2 separate regions of the Homo sapiens genome follow, and region 2 is linked to region 1. Evidence: fine-mapped expression QTL. Tissue or cell type: skeletal muscle. Region 1 holds a variant in brackets; the other region holds the start of a gene. All regions are shown on one strand. Distances are from middle to middle.

Region 1 (8,346 bases):
GATGTACAGAGGTCAGCTTCCAGCCGGCTTGTCTAGCTTAGAGAAAAGTGATCGCCACCCCAAACACGCTTCTTAATGAAGCACAGCCTGTGCTTACAAGCCATTCCCTTCCTGCCTTTTCCCTCTAGGAGGAAATTCTAAATCTTGAACACAAACGGCCAAAGAATTATATTTACATATATTTATATTTTATATTCACACATATCTAGGGAGCTGGGAGCAAGGGAAAAAAAAGACTAAGGTTTATTCTGGACAGCAGTGATGTTTCATAAGAGCAAATGAAGAGAGGTGAATAGTGGTCGAGCTTGCCTTGGTGTTTGAGCTTTAAACACAGAACCAGGTCTGTCCCTCTGAGGAGTAGAATTAAATTGTTCAAAGCAATAAATGGGAAAAGGTCTGCAAGTGTAATATGGATGGGAAGAGTGGGATAGGAAGGTGAACTTTGCATGGTTGTTCATGAGGGTTGGCCCAGCTGGGTCTAGGCATGAGGTCTAAGGGGCTGACTATCCATCTAAGTCAAATGAGGAAGCTTGCCTTGCTCTAGCGTGTTGCAGAAGAGAAAAGCAACAAGATCTGTACCCATGTGGGTAAATCAGAGAAAGATAGGAAGCAGGGAAGCTTGGCCATTCCATGCAGGAGAAGGCCCTGCCACTGGCAAACCTGGCCCAGTCACTGCCCCAAATCTAAGCAACTTGGGGTGACTCCTTCTCAGTGGGAGAGATAAGCTGGGGAAGGGGTTGTTGAGACAGGGCAAGCACACACCTGGAGCAATGTTAAACATGCACCTGTAATCCCAGCACTTTGGGAGGCTGAGGTGGGAGGATCACTTGAGCTCAGGACTTCGAGACCAGCTTGGGCCACATGGCAAAACCCTGTCTCTACAAAAAAAACCCAAAACAAAACAAAAAAATTAGCTGGGCATGGTGATGTGTGCCTGTAGTCCCAGCTACTCGGGAGGCTGAGGGAGGACGACGGCTGGGAATTTAAGGTTGCAGTGAGCCATGATTGTGCCACTGCACTGCAGCCTGGGCAACAGAGTAAGACCCTGTCAAAAAATAATAATAATAGAGTTCACATTCCCTTTCCCAGCAGAAAACATCAGGGACATGGGTGGGTAGTGCCCCTACAGGGCCGCACAGTTGGGCAAAGCTGTCCATTCAGGCCTTACCCCAAGTCCCTGTAGAAAAAGGGAGGCCCAGATACCTGAAGGTGCTGGGAGGTCATTTTTCTAGGAAGGCCCTATAATAAGACAGCCGTCTTCCTTCCCAGTAGGCTCCACACAGAGGACCCTGAGGCCTAGAAGTGACTTGGCCAAGGTCACTTGGCTGCTAGGCAGCAAAGCCAGCACTTGACCCAGGACTTTCTGACTCCAAAGACCAAACCCTTTTTAAAACTTATTTTTATGGAGATATTTTATACAAATAAAATGAAATACATAAGGTAGGCATAAGGGACAAAGCAAAACCAAACAAACAATAGCCTCTCCACCACCGAGCTTGAGAAATGCAATGCTACCCATGCGGCTAAGCCCTGTGGACTCCACCACACTTGCTACCTACCTGTCTCTATTGCCAAGGCTAACCCCTCTTCCGGGTTCAGGGTTGGCTCTTTGTTAGTGACTTATTACGTGTATAAGATTCCTAGATACTATAGTGTAGGGTTTGCCTGTTTTTGAACTCAGTATAAATGGAATCCCACTGTGTATTTTCTTCTTTATCTTTCCTCATTCTGTTTTGAGATTCCTTTATGTTGTCGCATGCACCGTAATTAATTAATTAATTAATCAGTTTTAATTCTTTTTTTTGAAATCATTAAAGACTCACACAAAGTTGAAAAAATAATACAGAGAGAACCTGTGAACCCTTCACCCAGCTTCCCCCAATGATAATACCTTTCAAGGCCATAGTAAAAATGATCAAAACAGGAAATTGACACAATAGTACAATCTCATTGAGGTTACTACTGTGGAGACTCAGCTTGGGATGATTTAGCTTGGATGAGACAAAACACACCCCTGGATCTGTGGGACCCAGAGCCCATGCACCTAACCACTGGACAATACTATTAACTCAGGGGTGGACCATATTCAGATGTCATCAGTTTTTTGTTTTTTTTTTTTTTTTTTTTTTTTTACATGCATCTTTTATTTCTTCCCCCGACCCCAGGTGTACAGTTCTTGAAAATGTGTGTAGGTTTGAATAACCATCCCAACAGTCAAGATACAGAGCTATTCCACCAGGAAAAGATTCCCTGGTATCGTTCCATAGTGATGTGGTTAATTCATTTTTAGGGCTGTGTGGGAGTCCTTCGCTTAGCTGTGCCACAGTTGATTCATGCGATCTCCTGGCCATGGCACTAAGGTGTTTTCTCGCCCAAAACTCCCTTGAACACACTGCTATGAGCATCCATGTGTATATCTTGAGCACATCAGCCAGAATTCTTTTTGGGCGTCTTCTTAGGGGTGAAATTGCTGAGTCAGAGGGTATGTGCATCTTCCACATGAGGCTACATTGCCAAATTCTTTTCCAAGTGGTTGTCATAATTCACACTCTCACCAGCAGCATACTACACTGTTTCCCAAGAGGCCCCGACCGGGCCACAAAACCAGTATCCGTACAGCACTGTTTACAAAACCCATCAACACTCCTTACGCTGGTTAACCCTCACAGGCCCTGGTGACATAGGCATGAGTTATCACCTCGTGTCTGTTCAGAAAAAGAAGCCAGAGCTGAAGTGACCCACTCAGGTTCACACAGTGTGCAAAGTCCAGGTTGCAGACTCCAGACCTTGTTATCTTTCCCGTAAAAACCCAAGGCTAGGCATGGTGGCTCATACCTGTAATCCCAGAGCTTTTGGGGACAGAGGTGGGGCTATCCCTTGAGCCCAAGAGTTCTGTAATTCTGGGATCATCAAGATTTTTGAGCCACCAGGATTCTGCCTTGAGACCAGCCTGGACAACATGGTGAGATGCCCCTCTACACAAAATTAAAATTTTATCTCTACACAAAGTTTAAAAAAATTAGCTGGGTATGGTGGTGCATGCCTATAGTCCCAGCTACTATGGAAGCTGGGGAGGGAGGATCACTTGAG[C/T]GCAGGAGTTTGAGGCTGCAGTGAACTATGTTTGAGCTGCTCTGCTCCAGCCTAGGCGACAGATTTTAAATAAATAAAACCCAGTGCTTGTGTAATTTTTACCAAGGGCCAGGCACTGTTCTAAAGGATTCCCTTCTCATGTATTAACTCAGTTTAATCCTCATAGTGACTCTACGATGTAGGTATTTATTATTATACCCATTTTACTTACAGAGAAGTAGAGGTACGGATGGAGAGGTTAAGTAACTTGCTCAAGGTCATTCAACCAGGAACTGCCAGTGCTGGACTTTAAGACAACCCTCTTGGTATCTTCTCTGTGAAACCCTCTACTTGAGGGGACACCCCCAACCTCCTGGGTGCATGACTTAGGTCTCACACTGCCATCCCTCTCAGGCACCCAGGGGCAAGTTACAATGCTAAGAGCATGGCTTGGCTGGGTAGGGAGAGGCACCAGTCTTCTCTAGGTCTGGGCTGGGCACCGGGTGGGCACCTGGAGCTCGGAGCCCAGCCTGCTGCCCCAGGGAACCCGCAGGGATGTGGGGAGCATGCGGAAGTCTCAATCCGATTATGCTATTAGTTTGGGCATTCTGGGGTTGTGCTCTGTGTCTACTTGACAAAACACAGCCCCGGAGCGGAGCCCTGATCGCTTTAACCAGGTGGAATTGAGCTCACACTTCAAGCAGCTTCTCCGTTATTACTGGCTTAGTGCTGCTGAAGAACCAACAGCAATAAATACGCCACCAATTTGCTCTCTGAATGTTCTTATTTGCAGCACGCCATGCAGAAAAAATATTAACAAAAAACAAACTCCTCACTCATAACAGGCTGAGGAGAGCCTCTTTAGAGTGGCGATGTTTGCCTGGATCTCTTATCCCATGTTTTCTTTCTGTCTAAAGAAGCTATAATTTGAGCTAAGCAGCTGCTGGTAATACTCTTCTGGGACATTGAGCTAAGAGAGGCGATGGTGTGGGAGAAGGTTGGCCCAAAAGGAGGACAATGGAGGGAGAATCCCACTCCAGGGACTGGAAACTGAAGGAATGGGGGAGGCCCGTCAGCTGAATGGGAAGATCCAGAGAGTTGCTCTCAGGGGTGATGAGGAACCCTGGGGTCTTGGGGTCCTGAATACTAGGAAAGCCGCTACTGCTTTCTGGGACTTGATTTCCACATCTGTGAAATGGGCTGATTTGATGACCTCTTCCGGTTCCAGCACTCTGTATTTGCCAAAGTATTTTTTATTCTTTCTCATGTTCTGGGTTCTGACTTAGCAAGAATTTGTGGGAGTGGACACTGTTCTGTAATTCTGGGATCGTCAAGATCCTTGAGACACCAGAATTCTGTTCTATTGTTCTTTGATTTGAAGACTCCAGGGGACTATGAATATGCAATTGTAATAAGAATAATGGCAGCTAACATCACTACAATGTAGCCAGGGCCAGCTTCACGGGGGGCCCTGTGCTTGGTTTAATGCTCTGCTGCCATCAACTTGAAATTCATCATTATTATTATTTTTTCAAATCCCCTATTCCGAGAAGCAATCATCATTGTTTTTTAACAAGGGGCCCCGCATTTCATTTTTTTTTGTGGGTCCCACAAATTATACAGCCAGTCCTGAGTGTACCAGTTAGAAGATTTTGGAGGCAAAAGGACTTGGTTCAAATCCTGGCTCGAGCCTTTCCAGCTGTGAGACTCCGGGCAAGTCACAGCCACTCCCTGAGCCTCAGTGGCCTCATCTGTAAAATGGAGCTAAGATCTTGGCTGGGCGCAGTGGCTCACACCTGTAATCCCAGCATTTTGGGAGGCTGAGGTGGGCGGATCACGAGGTCAGGAGATCGAGACCATCCTGGCTAGGCTAACACAGTGAAACCCCATCTCTACTAAAAATACAAAAAAATTAGCTGGGCATGGTGGCGGGTGCCTGTAGTCCCAGCTACTCGAGAGGCTGGGGCAGGAGAATGGTGTGAACCTGGGAGGCGGAGCTTTCAGTGAGCTGAGATCGCGCCAGTGCACTCCAGCCTGGGTGACAAAGCGAGACTCCATCTCAAAACCAAAACAAAACAAAACAAAAAATCTCACTGAGGTTACTACTGTGGAGACTCAGCCTGGGATGATGTAGTTTGGATGAGCCAGGACACACCCCCAGATCTGCGGGACCCAGAGTCCATGCACATAACCACTGGACTGCACTGCCTTTCCACTGATTTAATTTTTCACTATGGAAAACCTCAAACGTGTGAAAGCAAAAAGAACAGTAGTATAAAGAACCCCCAGGTACCTATCAACTGCCTCAACATTCATCAACACACTCCCAGCTGTGTTCATCCATGTCTCTACCACCCAAACTAGATTATCTAGAAACAAATTGGTGATTAGGACAAATGTGGTGGTTATCACAGTCTACGTTCCAGTGCCTGCAGAGGTCTGGAATTTCATGACTCATAGACTTAAGGAGTTGATGCCTGGAACATTCTGACATTCAGAGAATCCACATGGAACAGTGACAGCCAGAGAGGTCTTTTTCTCAGTCCAAATCAGGTTCCCAGGCTAAGCACTGTGTCAGGCTGAGCAGAGCAAGGCTGCCTTGGTTAGTTGAGATGACCTCAAGCAGGAATGTTCTCCTCTTGTGAATTTGTTTAAGATAATTACATTAGGTCCCATTTCCAAGCCACTTGTAAGAAGAGTGTATTTTCATGTTCAACCACGTCTGAGCTCCCAGGGACGGTTTTAAGAATTCCCCTTTTCCCTCCACTCCCAGCTCCAAATGGCTCCAAATGGTTTTCTTTCTTCTCTCTCTCTCTCTCTTTTTTTTTTTTTTTTTTTTTTTTTTTTTTTTTGAGACAGGGTCTTGTTCTGTCACCTAGGCTGGAGTGTAGTGGTGCCATCGTAACTCACTGCAATCTTGAACTCCTGAGCTCAAGTGATCTTCCTGCCCCAGCCTCCTAAGTAGCTGGGACTACAGGTGCCGCCACCATGCCTGGCTAATTTTTAATTTTTTTTTTTAAATAGAAATGGGGTCCTGCTATGTTGCTCAGGCTGGTCTTGAACTCCTGGCCTCAAATGATCCTTCTTGTCTGGCCTCCCAAAGTGTTGGGATTATAGGTGTAAGCCACCATGCTCGGCCATTTTGTCTTGGTAAAATCTCCCTTGACTGAAACTATGGAAGAGGAACTGGTTTGTGAATGAGTCAAATTGGGAACTATGGCTATGGCTGTCTCTGGCTGTGTTAGTTATCTACTGCTGTGTAACATCTACTAATTTTGTGGCTTAAAACAATTTACATTTATGATCTCGTAGTTTCTGTGGATCAGGAGTCTGAGCATGGTGTGGGTGGGTCTTCTGCTTAGGGTCTCACAAGACTGCAGCCAAGGTGTCAGCTGTGGCTGTGTTCTCATCTGAGGCTCAACTGGAGAGAGATCTGCTTCCATGATCATGCAGATGATTGACAGGAGTTAGGTCCTTGTGGGTGTAGGACTGAAGACTTCAGCTTTTTCCTGCCTGTTGGTCAGAGGCCACCTTCAGCTCCTAGAAACCCCCACATTTCCTTGCCACATGGGCCTCCCAACATAGGCAGCCTACACCTTGGCAGCTTGCTGCTTTCAAAGCTGTCAGGAAGCAAGAGATTCCAGGAAGATGGGTGCTATAATCTTAAGTATGTAATCACACACATCTTGTCAATTTGCTCTATTTTGTGGATTAGAAGCAGGTCACAGGCTCTTCCCACATGCCAGGAAAAGGGACTGGCTACATAAGGGCATAAACATTAGGAGAAGAGTCTGTCTGCTGCAATGGCTCACTTATTCATTCAGCTAGTATTATTTTTTATTTTTCTTTCATTTTTTGTAGAGATAGGGTCTTGCTCTGTGGCCCAGGCTGGAGTCCAGTGGTGCAATCACAGCTTGCTAGAGCCTTGACCTCCTGGGCTCAAGTGATCCTCCTGCTTCAGCCTCTGGAGTAGCTGAGATTACAGGTATGAACCACTGCCCCCATCTCAACTAGTACTATTGATAGTAAGCAAGATAGATGTGGTCCTGCCCTCAGGAAACTTCTATGGAGCAATGCGTGGATCCTGTGTGTGGGGTTGGGACAGTCCCAACTCTGATCTTGCTGTGAGACTTTTGGCTTGACATTAGCTCTCTGGGCCTCCCTTGACCTATTTGACCAGTGGAATGAATACCACAGAGCTATCCCTGGCTCAATGGTGATGTGAGGGTCCAGTCATCATGGACCCTCCATCATTTATCAAGTGGGTATGGAATACCAACTACTAAGCCAGTGCTTTACCAGTGCTGTCTCAACCCTTACCACAGCCCATGTGCAGGGACTTTAACCCTGCTGTTGGCTGTGACCCTCATTCTGCTACCCACAAGAAAATACGTGCAAATGGCCTCTGGAAGGAGTCGGAGGATGCCCTACTATGTGTAAAGAGGAAGTGGGGCAGAGAAGGAGTTAAGAAGACAGGTGGTTGTGATGGAGACCTGCTGTGAGACCTCTTTGAGGCCTTGGCCCTGAAAAGAAACGTCTCCAAGCATCAGTCTGACAGACATCTCCAGAACAAAGAGGATACTGGTTCCTACCTCATGGAGTAATATGATGGTTAACTATGTTTATGAATAGAAATTCTCAGAACCATGAGAACATGGTAACTACTCAAAGAATGGTGGCTTTTGTCATGAAACACCTACTGTGCACTGGCTCCGTGCTGGGATGTTTTATACTGAGCCTGCCGGCCTTCAAGGTGTGAGGCTCTGAGATGAAAAAATGTGGCCTTGGGGTTGAGAGCAGTGATAAAACCTGGCTGTGAGCTCTCCTGGGATGACTTTTTGGTAAAGACAGAGCCTTCTGGTGGCAGCCAGGGAATGTTCTAGGTACCTGACCCTGAACAAACGTCTTGCCTGTGAGGCCCCTCCTCCTGGCACTCAGGCTAAACCTAATTTATGAATGAACCCATCCCCAGTACCTAGTCAAGTGTGGCCACAAAAGGCCCCACAGGAATTGCTGCTCGGGGCAGAGGACTCTGGTCTTCTATGAGCTTATCAGGCTCCTTCTAGGTTGAGCCATCCATGGCTTCCCAGTGCCCTTGAGAAAAGTGCAGAATCCTGCCAGTGACTTGCAAGGGCCCATGTGAACCGGCCCCTCTGGTCTCTGAGGCCTCATCCTCTAGCTTGGTCTCTCTGGTTTTCTCTGCTTCAGCTGTTCTAGACATCCTTCCCAGAGCTGCAATCGCCTGACTCAGGGTCCTTGTGTGCGTTTCTCTCCTTC
Region 2 (8,000 bases), 180 kb before region 1:
CCTTCAAAACAAAGTTCTCCACCCTGCGTTCTCTAATCCTGCCTTCCTGCCAGCCTCATCTCATGCCGCTCCCTGCTCATGGGACTCCCTGCCCACTCTCTGCCCTGGCTGCCCTGTACTCCAGGGTTTGGCATGTGGTAGTCCCTCTGTTTAGACCACCCTTCCTCCAACTTCCTTTACCTGGCAGAGTGCTGTTGTTGTTGTTGTTTGTTTGTTTGCTTTTTTGAGATGGAGTCTTGCTCTGTCGCCAGGCTGGAGTGCAGTGGCGCGATCTCGGCTCACTGCAACATCTGCCTCCCGGGTTCAAGTGATTCCCCTGCCTCAGCTTTCCAAGTAGCTGGGACTACAGGCGCACGCCACCATGCTTGTTAATTTTTTGTATTTTAGTAGAGATGCGGTTTCACCACGTTGGCCGGGATGGTCTTGATCTCCTCACCTTGTGATCTCCCTGCCTTGGCCTCCCAAAGTGCTGGGATTACAGGCGTGAGCCACCGTGCCCGGCCAGTGCTGTTTGTTTTAAACATCACTTCCAACAAGAACTGGGAGTTGGGATGAGGGTGGCAGGTATGGAGAAGCCACCTGGGTTGCTGGGATTAACTCAGAGGAGGGACAGTGATACCGTTTGGCTCTGTGTCCTCACCCAAATCTCATGTTGATTTGTAATCCCCAGTGTTAGGGGAGGGACCTGGTGGGCGGTGATTGCAACGTGGGGGCGGATTTTCCCCTTGCTGTTCTCGTGATAGTGAGGGAGTTCTCGTGATAGTGAGGGAGTTCTCGTGATAGTGAGGGAGTTCTCGTGAGATCTGGTGTTAAAAAGTGTGTAGCACTTTCCTCTTTGCTCCCTTGCTCTCCTTCTCCCCATGGTAAAGATGTGCTTGCTTCCCCTTCATCTTCTGCCATGAGCGTAAGTTTCCTGAGGCTTTCCAGCCATGCTTCCTGTACAGCCTGTGGAACTGTGAGTCAATTAAACCTATTTTCTTCATAGATTATGCAGTCTCCGATAGTTCTTTATAGCAGTGTGAGAATGGGCTAACATAGACAGCAATCCAGGAAGCCCATAAAATAAGATGACAGGAGCAGAGTCTAGACCAGGTAGACCAGCCAGACAATGGAGGGGATTTTTCCTTGTTGCCTGTTGACTTGGAGAACAGCGTACCTTGGGATTTTCAAACTTTTTTGGAAACTTGAGTTCCTGAGAGGATCCTGGAGGCAATGGCAGGGTTCAAGTCCCCACTGACTCTGTTTTGACCTCCTTTCACAAATCTCTCCCAGAAGATTTTATTAGGAGGATATGTTTTGCAGCTAAAAAAAAAAAGTTTGAAAAACCCTATGTTTTGAAGTCAGGCTGCATATGTTCACAACCCTGCTCAGCCACAAAGCTGTGTGGCTTTGGGTAAATTACTTAACTTCTCTGAATGACTTAAATTCTTAGTTTCCTAATCTGTAAAATGGAAATAATAATTGCACTGACCTTCCAGTTGTTTTGAAGAATGTGGCAGATTGTGTTTTTCAAAGATGGTCATAACCACATCTCTCATTCCTTATGCCCTTGTAGAATCTCACCATTTTCTCATCAAGAAGTTGAGTGGAAGTTCCCTCTCCTTGAACTTGGGTGGGCATTTGAATTGCCTCAATCAGCAGAGTAGCATGGAGGTGATGCTATGACTTCTGAGGTTAGGTCATGACAATGCCATGCACTTGTGCCTGGTTCTCCTAAGTTACTCCTTCCCAGAACCTGGCTGCCATGTTGTGAGGAAGCCCAAGAAGCCCATGGAGAGGAATGGAGACCCACCCCCATGCCCCCAGTGGATAGCTCCTGCTGAGCTCCCAGCTAACAGCTAAAACCAATTTGCCAATCATGTGAGTGAGCTATTTTGGAGGTGGGTTCTCTGCCCCACAGTTAAGTTGTCTCAGCTGATGCCATGTGGAGCTGAGATGAGCTATCCCGCTGCACCCTGCATAAATTACAGATTATGATTGTTGTTGCTTTAAGGCACCATGTTTTGGGGTAATCTGTAATACAGCAGTAGATTACTGGAACAAGGAATAGGTAAGATAATGCACATGAAGTGCTTAGCACCGGACTAGGTGCATTAGAAGCACTTTTTACACAGGAGAAATTGAGCACAGAGACAGCGATGGTTTGGCCCAAGGTCACACAGCTACTGGACATGTTTTCCCGCTACTGCTTCTGCTTCTTCTCTGCATGGAGGTAGTGAGGATGTGACTGTTGAGTTCTGAGCTGATCCCAGGGCTGGGGGACTAGCTCCTCTCCCCGAAGACTGGCACCCATTGCTGAGAGCAGGGTTTATCAACCAGATCTGGGTATTTCCAGACAAGCTTGCTGCAAGTCACCTCCTCCCTGCCTCTTCCCTCCCAGGCCCTCAATGGCTGCCCCAGGAAGGTGGGGAAAAGTGGTTCGACTGGGCATTGGCAAGTGAAGGGCCCTGGAGGCGGGGAGGGGGCATCTCCTGGCACCAGCCCCTGCTTCCTGTCTGCCTGCAGCTCCTCTTCCCAAGCATGAGTGGCTTTGAGGGAGGATCTGGGTGACTCTTTCCTCTAGGCTTTAATAATACTGTTAATTAAGCAGCCAAGAGAAGAACACGGCTGGCGCCAGCGAGGGGACAATGGTCTGAAAAGGGAACAGAGAGACGCATCAACAGCTTCCCATGCAGGGCTTTCAAAAGAGCAGCTGTGGGGAGCAGGCGGGTGGGGGACAGAAGGGACACCGCCAGAGCCGATCGCAGTGTGGCTGGGCAGGGAGGCGCTGGGATGAGCCCATGCCAGCTGTCCAGCTGTGCTTCTCTCTGGCACCCCCTGCCTTCCCAGCTGGACGAGGGCTTCTCTGGAGCTTCTGGACAGGCTGGATGAAACAGGCAGCCAGAGGGCACCAGCTGGTCCACCCAGACCCCCCATGACACCTTATTTTGCCTCCATTTCCTCATCTACAAAATAGAAGGGTTGAACTAGTTTGCATTTCTTCTTATGTGCTGATCTCAATAGAAGGTGACTACTTGGAACGTTGACTTGAGAATTTAGAAGCCGAATCAATGCTCCACGGAGAAGCATGCTGGGATTGATTTGTGATGTCTGCCACGAATATAAGATTGGCCATTTGGGGCATGAATGCTATTCATGGATTGGATCTCCTAAGGTACATTCATTCAACCAATAAGTAGTTAAAAACCACCTACTAAGTGTAGGTCTTCTCACTCTCATCTAGTTTCCTCATTTATACAATGAGTACCTAGGGAGAAGTAGAGTCATCCCTCAGCATCCAGGGGGAATTTGTGCCAGGATACCACATGGGTATGAAAATCCACAGATGCTCAAGTCCTTTATATACAAAGGGAGTATTATCTGCATATAACCTACGCATATCCTCCCACATACTTTAAATCATTTCTAAACTAGTTATAATACCAATACAATGTAAATGCTATGTGAAGAGTTGTTATACTGTATTGTTTAGGGAATAATGACAAGGAAAAAAGTCATGTTCAGTACAGGCACAACCATCCATTTTATTTTTTCCAAATATTTTCACTCTGGTTTGTTGAGTCCATGGATGTGGAACCCACATATATGGAGGGCCAAGTGTACTTTCTTTTTCTCTGGGCTGTGATCTTTGGAGACAGAACAAATAGGAAGAAATCAGGGCCAAGAGAGAAGAGATATCAGGAGTGCTCAGAAGAAAGTGGTGGTATTTGCATATCGCCTTAAATCGGGTTGGCAAACCACAACCCCCGGGCTAATAAAGTTTGATTGGAATACGGCCACACCCACGTGTTTATGTATGGTCTGTGGTGCAGAGTTGAGTGGTAGGAGGGACAGAGAACTTATGGCTCACAAAGCCTAAAGTAGTTACTGTCTGGCTCTTTACAGGGAACCTTTGCCGACCCTGCTGTATACAATTCAAGGCATTTTCCCAGTCATCCTATCACTTGCTTTTCATGCCAACTCTCTGAGTTTAGCAGGGCAGACATTATGAAGTCCCATTTTCCGAAGAGGAAACTGCACCCCAGCCCCAGAAGGCCAGGCCTTGAACTTGAGCTTCCTATTTCTTTCCCTGGGCCCCCTTCTCCACGCTGCCTTCCATCTGACTCCAAAAGCTGCCAAGCTTTTTGATTTTGCTTCTGAAATCTCTGGCATCAGTCTCAGCCCCCAGTATCACTCACCTGATTGATGCTAACATCCTCCGGGATTTCTCCTTCTAAGCTATCTGATAGTGGCTAGAGAGGTTTTTCTTAAGCCCAAATCTAAATCAGGCCACTCCCTTGCTCAAAGCCCTCCCATAGCTCCCCCATGCTCCACTCCAAAGCCTGAGCTCTTTAGCATGATCTGTAAGGTCCCTGCTGCGCTTGGAGCCTCCCCTCTTCCCTGTGTATTCTGGAGGCATGTTGCTCCTTTGCTCCTCCCAGGAATTTCTCTCCACCCCTTCACACAGGATTTCTCGTTGCTAAGACCTCATTCTTTAAGGCTCAACTCAGTTCATGAGCCTTCTCTGCTCCCTCCCCATGTTCAGCCAGGTTAGTGCCTCCCCTGCCCATACTGACCTGGCCATTTGGGGCGTGAAGGCTATCCATGGATCGGATCTCTGAAGGTCCACTCATTCAACCAATAAGCAGTTAAAAACCACCTACTAAGTGTAGGTCTTCTCCCTCTGATCTAGCTTCCTCATTTATTATTATTCACTAGTGCACAGGCCTAGCATCCAGTAGGCATTCACTAAATGCTCTCACAGCCTTGCTGATGGGAACTTGCCCTCAGCTCTGAAACCCCAGGCCCCACTGTTAGCCTAATGCAGAGAGGTGCCCAGCCCCCGAAGACCCCCGAGGGCTCTCTACTCCTTCCCTCTCTATGGCTGCCCCAGGGCCTGAATGGCTTGAAGCTGTGAATTTGCTAGGCAAGGACCACGACAGCTCTTGGCCTCATTATTTTTGGCATCTGTCTTATTCCTTAAGCATCTTCTGTGGGGAAGAAGAACAGCTTGATAGGAAAATGCTCTGACAGACATTCTACCATTAACACATTTTTCCCATGCCCTGAACGTGCCCCACAATCCTTCAGGAAGCATCTATAATGGACAGAAAAAGGGATGGCAGTAAGGCTACAATGTTTCCAGGGGCAGGGGAATGAAAGAAGGCAGGCACTAACACCACCAAGTACCTATTGTGTGCCATATCCTATTCTGCTAATTATAGCTACCATTTGTATAGCCTTTACTTACGTGCCAGCCACACACACACACACACACACACACACACACACACACACACACACACACACACAAAGCTCAGGACTGGCTTCAGGCATGGCTGGATCTAGGTGCTCCAACAATGTCTGCAGGGCAGGACCTGGTCCCATTTTCCTCTCACAGGCAAGCTCTTTTTACAGAATCCTGAGTAATTCCAGAACTATATTCTCTTGTCAGAACTAAGACAAGAAAAACCTAAAAAAGCTTTTTATTAATAGTTTCAGCACAAGTTCCAGGACTCATTCTCACTGATTGTACTTGGGTCATGTGCATGTTCCTGAGCCAATCACAGGATCAGGAATGGAGCATTTTGATTGGCCAAGCCCAGGTCATGTGCCCTTCCAAGAGCTGGGGACTGGGATAAGGCTCTCTTAAACATCACAGAGAGAGGCCAAGGCAGGAGGATCACTTGAGGTCACGAGTTCCAGACCAGCCTGGCCAACATGGTGAAACCTCGTCTCTACTAAAAAATACAAAAATAAGCCAGGCATGGTGGCACATGCTTGTAATCCCAGGTATTTGGGAGGCTGAGGCAGGAGAATTACTTGAACTCTCTAGGCAGAGGTTGCAGTGAGCTGAGATTGCGCCACTGCACTCCAGCCTTGGCAACAGAACAAAACTCCATCTCAACAAACAAACAAACAAACAAACACAAACAAACAAAAAAAATCGAAAAACAACTAACATCACAGTCCAAGGGAGGTGGGAGAATGACGGATGATCCCTGAGGGAGAATCAGGGTGCTGGACAGGCAGAAACAATTGTCTTTCACAGGGGCCTGCAAATCTCACTTTTATGTTACTAATGAGGACACAGAGTTACAAAAAGGCAAATGGGCTGCCCAGACTCACAAGGCTGATATGTGGCAGAACCTTGATTGGAGCTCAGGACTCCAGGACTGACTTATAAAAGCCCTGGGGAGGCCAGGCACGGTGGCTCCTGCCTGTAATCCCAGCACTTTGGAGGGCTGAAGTGGGAGGGTTGCTTGAAGCTAAGAGTTTGAGACCAGCCTGGGCAACATAGTGAGACCCCATCTCTAAAAAACACCCCAAAAGCCCTAGGGAGCAATAAACTGTCCTTCTTTTCTCTCCCCCATATTTATTGAGCACTAATTATGTGCCAGGTACTATACTTTGGAGATTACAGTGGTGAATACGACAGATGTGATCCCTGCATTGATGGAGCTTAAACTTAAAGAAGTCAGTTTCTGGCCTCCCTTGCTCATTGCTCTACCCTCCACCTGGACAGCCCTTTCCACCCCCACCAGTCTCAGTCCCCAGTGACCTGTGTTCCAATCTTCCCTGTCTCTCTAGGTCTAGTTAGGGTCGTGCCATCCCCTCCAAGCCTGCCTTGCTGGTTGCAGCCAGACCTTCCCTTCCTTGCCTGAGTCCTGCAGCCCCTCTCTCCCATTAGGTTGCCCCTGCTTGCCCCTGAGATGTGCAGAAAAGATGGGGAGGCTGCCCCATCCTCTGAGGTTCTTGTTGGGGGAGGGAGAGGCAGGGAAGAAAGAGGATGGGCCAGACTGGGTTCTAGCAGCTGTCACCGCAGGGGCACACCCACATACACATCACACCCACAAACACACATGCACACATGCATACTCACTCATTTGCTCATTCGCAAGCATTTATTGTGTGCCTACTGTGTGCCGGTTACAATGCCAGTATTAGGGACACAGTGGTGAACAAGAGCAGGTCCTGGCCCTACCCAGTCCCCACTCCCCATTCCCCAACAGGGAGCTCACAGAGTAAGCACACAGTGCTTCAAGAGGGAGACATATAGAGTGATGAGAGTGTATACCAGGAAGGGCTTCCTGGAGGAAGTGGCAGCTGAGATATGAACTAGGTAAAGAGCAGAAGGGACAAGCATTCTAGGCTGGGAGGGAACAGCATGTGTGAAGGGTCTTCGGGGAGAGGAAGCATGGGCTCTGACAGGTTGAATGGAGGTCAGTGTGGCAGCAGCCTGAGAGAGACAGGGTGAGTCAGGACTCAGCTGTGGGGAGGAGGGCGATGGGGCCATGGGAGCCATGGAGGGTTTTAAAGAAGGGAAAGGCAGACGCAGACTTGGGTTTAGAAAGAGACTTCTGGTTGCTGTGCAGAGAAAGGCCTGGGAGTGTGGGTGCAGTTAGAGGGGGCAGCTGTGCCCTCCAGATGGACATGACAGGGGCCAGCAGTAGGGAGACTAGGTCAGGTTAGCAGGTGGCATGATGGGGAGGAGAAGCTGAGAGATTTGAGAGAAATTTCGATGGTAAAGAGGAAGGAGTGCAGATGCCACTGGTATCCGGTGTGGGCAGTGGGATGATACTCTGTACAACCCCTGCCTGGGGCCCCAGATACGGAGAAGGTGCAAGGCGGGGGAAGGTGCCCCTTACACTCTTAATACCTCCTTCAGACCTCCCTCACACCCCCACTCACAACCTCACAGACAACTCAACATAGTCACATGCACAGTCTCACTCACAAATTCATCTTCTTACATTCCCTTACTCACCAGTCCACATAGTCCCTCTATCAGTCAGTGCAGGATGGGTTATGCCATAGTAGCAAACATCCCCCAACACAGCACTGTTCAGCAGTAGAGGTTTCACTCACACCTATGCTATCTTACTCCCCCTGCTCTACCCACTCCCACTTCCCGTCATTCACACCCAGTCCCTGTATCAGTCAGCCTGGGCTGGATTTGGCTGTAGTAACAAGCAGCCCCAAACCTTAGCACCACACAGCAGTAGGGGCTTGTTTCCTGC

What was found. PIP is the estimated chance that this variant, and not a neighbour inherited with it, causes the effect.
Region 2: CPMER starts here. The variant in region 1 is fine-mapped to the expression of CPMER in skeletal muscle (GTEx, PIP 0.99).

The regions. Positions count from the first base shown.
Region 1 is chr22:27,529,196-27,537,541 of GRCh38, reverse strand. The region is part of intron 1 of LOC105372981 (a long non-coding RNA gene); the gene reads left to right. Among named protein-coding and RNA genes, the nearest start is that of CPMER, 180 kb to the left of the region's middle. The variant C/T (reference allele first, on the strand shown) is at 3,091.
Region 2 is chr22:27,710,035-27,718,034 of GRCh38, reverse strand. CPMER (cytoplasmic mesoderm regulator) reads left to right here and starts at 3,065. Exons shown (of 5, transcript NR_186699.1): 1 at 3,065-3,154. RefSeq lists an enhancer at 1-287.